Regions from separate parts of the Homo sapiens genome. Here region 2 is linked to region 1. A link means that fine-mapping ties the variant in region 1 to the expression of a gene that starts in the linked region. Tissue or cell type: blood mononuclear cells. Region 1 holds a variant in brackets; the other region holds the start of a gene. All regions are shown on one strand. Distances are from middle to middle.

Region 1 (2,762 bases):
ACGGGGTCTCACTCTGTTACCCAGGCTAGAATATAGTGGCACAATTATAGCTCAGAGTAACCTCAAACTCCTGGCCTCAGATGACCCTCCTCAGCCTCCCAAATAGCTAGGTCTACAAGTGTGCACCACCATGCCTGGCTAATTTTTTTAATATTATTTTTTGTAGAGTCAGAGTCTCCCTATGTTGCCCAGGCTAGTTTCGAACTCCTGGCCTCAAGTGATCCTCCTGCCTCAGCCTCCCAAAGTGCTGGCATCACAGGTGTGAGTCACCACACCTGGCCTCATATCTCTTTTTAAAAAATAATGCTCTAAACAGATAAAGCCATTATAGCCTGCTGTCTATTTGCAGAACAGGTTAAAAATATTTAAAAGAACATTGGCATAACACTCAACTTGTTTAAAAATCTATAATAACTACGGTTTAAATGAAAATAAAAACAGCTAAGTATCAGTCTCAATTTTCTATCTATGGTTCACAAGCCTAGTTATACATTAAATCATCTTAGGAGTTTTAAAAAATATTCATGTCAAGATCCCACTCTAATTTAATTGTTAGCCCTAAGGTGGGTTCCATTCTCTGATTCTCTCTCTCTCTCTCTCACTGCATAATAACCTTTGTTTATACAATGTCTTGATAGTACCACGTCTTTCTTTTTCCACTCCTAAAATGGCCATTAAACTCAATTATAGAAAGATTATTTTACTAACAATTGAGCAAGGGGCATGTTCAGAGCAAACCCTTTTTTTCCCAAAAAGGCCCATACAAAAATATGTGTATAACTAATGATAAATCCATCACTAGAAAAACATGTAGCTTCATTTCTTTACATCAGAAAACCCCAAGCAGTAGAGCCTGCTTGCTGATGAAGTGGATCCTCAGTAGAACCAGGCACCCACCTCCATGGCTGACTTTCATTGGCTCTGCGCAGCGCTTTATCAATAGCACCCTTTCTGTTCCTATCTCCTCCCCTCTCCTATCCTGCTCTACCTCCATCCAGTGACTCAAGTGTTAAGGGAAATTAGAAGGAGCATGTTTCCAAAAAGGGTAAAAGCAGTAAATTTATATGAAAGACAGCATGTCATCAGCATTGCCAAAAAAAAAAAAAAACAAAAAAAAACCTCAAAATAGCAGATGGGTTGGCCAAAATAAAAAATATACC[T/C]AATTGTTGGGTGTCATGTAAAACTTCCGGAATGTCTGAGGTTTTCTTATCCCTGCCTTTTCGAAATTTTGGTTTCCTGCAGGGTATTTCTCTTGCTTTTCAGCATTCTCATAACTTCCTTTGGCAACTTCCAGATTTCTTTTTTAATTATGTGTGTGTGTGTGTGTATGTGTGTGTGTGTGTGTGTGTGTGTGTGTGTATATATGTGTATATATATATATATGACTTGCAGTGACTGCTTTCCCTTTTCACAGAAACAAGTCAACATTTTGATTTCAAACATCAAAAAAGGTGTCCAGAAATCTCAAGAATTTGAGACATCCTAAGGAACTTTAAGTGCTGTGAGCCACAAGTAACATCAAGAAAAGACAGGGATGAAGAACCGCACTTACAAGCTAAGTAAGATTAAACCCAGCATGGAGATATATGAATTAATATGAACTCTGAGAAAGAAATTGGTCAGCTAAAAAATATATGGCTTTCCTGAATAGACAAAAGAACAAAGATTTTCCCTTTGGTATGTAACCTGTTTCATTTAGTCACTTATATTTTCTCTGAGTGTGAGATAAATGTTATGAAAAAATTTGTTTTGATTATGCAAGAGAGGATTGTTTACCTAGTCAGGTCAAAACTGGAAAAAAGAACTGCTGCTTCATTATACATCCCCCACAACTTCATAGAAAGTGATTTTAAAAAGAGGAAAACCAAAGATTTATAGAGTTGGGTGCCCATCTTCATGGCTGACTTTCATTGGATATATATATAAAATAAGTATGAACATTAAAGTTCATCTAGCACCCCCCCCAAAAAAAAACTGGATAGACATTTTTCAAAAGAAGACATACAATGGCCAACAGGTATATGAAAAAATGCTCAACATCACTGCTGATCAGAAAAATGCAAATTAAAACACAATGAAATATTATCTCACACCTGTTAGAATGGCTATTATCAGAATGATGAATGATAACAAGTGCTAGTGAAACTGTGAAAAAAAAAAGGAAACCCTGTATATTGTTGGTGGGAATGTAAATTACTACAGCTGTTATTAAAAACTGTATTAGGGTTCCTCAAAAAATTAAAATTAGAACTACCATATGACCCAGCAATTCCATTTCTGATTATATATCCAAAGGAAATGAAAACAATATGTCAGAGAGATACCTGCTCTTCCAAGTTCATTGCAGAGCTATTCACAATAGCTAAGATTTTGTATCAACCTAAGTGTCCATCAACAAATAAATGGATAAAGAAAATGTGGTATTTAAATGAGAATTAATAAGACCTAGTATTTGATAGTACAACAGGGTGACTATAGTAAAAAATAATTTAGTTGTACATTTAAAAATAACTAAAAGAGTATAATTAGATTGTTTATAACACAAAGGCTTGAGGTAATGGATACTCCATTTACCCTGATGTGATCACTATGCATTGCATTCCTGTATCAAAATATCTCATATACCCCATAAATAAACACACCTACTCTACTATGTACACACAAAAATTAAAAATTAAAAGAATATGCCCTATTTAAAAAAAAGAAAGAAAACGTAGTATTTAGACATAATGGAATATGACTCAGCCTTGAAAAAGAAGGAA
Region 2 (2,500 bases), 240 kb before region 1:
ACATTTGCATTTCTCCTTTTCCCAAAATTATGGAATTTTCTTCATGTGAATATTGACGTACATATTTTTTTCCTTTTAACTTTGCTAAAAGTTATATACAATGATGTCATTTCCATCTGGCCAGGGGTCTACATAAAAAAGTTGGAAACATTTTGGAAGGCAGACAATTGAAGTCACATTTTTAAAACATGCAAGGAACTTAAATATTCTTTTGGAGTAATAGTCAAAAAGGACAACTTTAAGCAGCTTTCTCAAAGCAAAAGGAGGGTGTGTCTTTGAAAAACGGAAAGAATTCCAACCTCTGTTCTTGGTGAAGTATCCTGAGCGGCCCTAAAGAGGTCTGAACCAATTACATCTCTTCCAAGTTAGTTAGAAACAAGACAGCTATTTCAATACCCCCTTTCCACCCCCATGTTGAAAATATTTGACCAATTATTTAACAGAAGGAAATAAGTAGCAGTAAGGACCACACTAATCCCAGACGGAAAATTTATAGACATGCATCATTTTTCTCTTTAAAGGCAAGTTTTGGTTAATTCCTAGAAGGACAATCTGAACGTGCAGAATTTATTAGAACACGGGAAAGTCGCAGAGTCCTCGTCCTCCAATGCACGGTCTTATCATCCCAGGCCCTCAGAACCAGCGTGCTCAAAACTCGGTCCTTTTGTGTGCACAGCTGGTTTCTCTCAGTAAAGCGCGCACACACTCGCACACACGCGCGCGCACAAAACTTCAGCCCCAACTTTGGTCGGCTTTAGGGTCCCATCCCTGAGGCAGCCTGTTTCAGCCCGCGGTCAGTACTCACGCTTGCTTTGACTGACAGCCACCGGGGACTGGGGCTGAACCATTTGCTGAGCCTGCCTCTTGCTCTTCGAGGCTCCCGTGGAGGGCACCGCTGTCCCCAGGCACTGGACGGCCAGCAGCAGCAGCCCGGGCCCCGGACCCCTAAGCATGTTGAGACGGTGGGGGAGAGACGCCCGCACCGGGAGGCAAGTTGCCACCAAGTTTGCTTCCCTTCGCAACCTGCGGGAAAAATCCCTTCTAATGCCTCCCGGGGGTTGTCGCCTCCAAGAAGGTGGGGGCCAGAGGGTGGGGAAGGGGACGGGTGGAGGGACAGAAGGGATGCAGAGGACCAGAGAAGTTGTGGCTGCAGGTCCCCTCTTCCCGCTCGCGCCTGGGGTTCCCTCTCCTCCCCCTGTGCAGCACAGCCGGCGCGGGCGTCCGAGCGCCGGGAGCCGGGGCTTATATGGGACGGTCCCCTCCCGCCCCTCTGGAGGCCCGGGGCGCGGGGGAGGAGAGACCCGCCGGGCTGTCCCCGCCCCGCCCCACCCCACCCGCCCGCCCGCCCGCCGGCCGCCGCAGCCGACCGCGCGCCGATTGGCCCGGGCTCCGGGTGACGTCACGGGGGACTGTGGGTTCGCAGCGAACAAAAGAGATGCTGATGGCCCGCCAGGACTGGGGCAAGACAACTTTTTTTCGGTTTCCTTTGCGGTCATCAAACTTTTTAGGGGATGGGGGAAGGGATGGGAAGCGGCTGGGAGGAAAGGGAGTGGCTGGACTTGTGTGAAGCGAAGGGGTTGCAAGACGCTCCCCCTTCCCTTTTCTTTTTTATTGGGGGTGGTGGTAGTGTTTGAGGACATTGCGTCACCTCTCTTCGGGGTGGAGGGGGGGAATCTCTGCTTATAGGAGTGTATTTTGTGAGGAAGAAAACCCATAAAATATCCACGACCTTGCAGCTGTTAAGAATCCAGACTTTTCAGTCCCAGGGCGGGGCTGCCTTTCCCCCCATCCCGCTCCCTTTCTTTGGACTAAAGGGTACTGACTCGGGACTCCCTTATTTTGTCTTCACAGCTCCCTGTTCGGACTTCTTCCCTTCTCAGCGCTGTGCCTGTCTGGCTCTGAGAAAGGGCCAGCGGGCGAACGGGGAGCAAAGGGGAACAGAGACCTTTAATGAGCTTCTACTAAGTACCGGGAGTTCCGCGGGGCGCTTTGCAGATCCCGGGGAAGTTCAGAGAATGAAGTTTTCTTTTGCAAGGACAAAGTAACAGTTTACTTTTTTACACATGCAGGAAAGCCTTCCTTTCCTGGGGATGGGACGCCCGTTTCCACTGAAAGTGAAATCACTGTGAACAACCTGAAAATTGGAAAGTTGGACCAGCTGTGGGGAGAGAAAGGTCTTCGTGTCCTTTCCCACGTTCACCGTGCCAGTTACACACAAAGCAGAGATTTTTTTGCTTGAATCATTAAAAGCCGGGTGGGTGGGGGGCACCCTATGTACTGTCTTGCCCTCCTTCGGCCCCTTTCTCACATTTATTTGCCATTTTCTTTTTGCTGACAAGTTCCATTACAGAATGCCCCCTCCATCCCCCGCCGCCAGATTTTTTATATTTCAATTGTTATTTACTCCAAGAGTGTGGAAAGTTCTCCTTTAAGATTCCCCCGCCTTGAACTCTAAACTCAGAGTGGAAAGGGAATCTGAAAAGTCTCTCATTTAGCAACA

Evidence for each region. PIP is the estimated chance that this variant, and not a neighbour inherited with it, causes the effect.
Region 2: FN1 starts here. The variant in region 1 is fine-mapped to the expression of FN1 in blood mononuclear cells (TOPMed, PIP above 0.99). The same link has a PIP of 0.9 or more in T cells and monocytes.

Annotation. Positions count from the first base shown.
Region 1 is chr2:215,676,530-215,679,291 of GRCh38, forward strand. All of the region lies in intron 5 of LINC00607 (long intergenic non-protein coding RNA 607), which reads right to left. LOC102724861 (a long non-coding RNA gene) reads left to right here. Exons shown (of 8, transcript NR_187737.1): 5 at 1,415-1,677. Among named protein-coding and RNA genes, the nearest start is that of LINC01614, 40 kb to the right of the region's middle. The variant T/C (reference allele first, on the strand shown) is at 1,161.
Region 2 is chr2:215,434,850-215,437,349 of GRCh38, forward strand. It overlaps FN1 (fibronectin 1), which reads right to left and starts at 1,219. Exons shown (of 46, transcript NM_212482.4): 1 at 806-1,219. The coding sequence starts at 953. FN1-DT (FN1 divergent transcript) reads left to right here and starts at 842. Exons shown (of 2, transcript NR_187198.1): 1 at 842-1,460; 2 at 2,070-2,500. RefSeq lists silencers at 1,243-1,302, 1,313-1,402.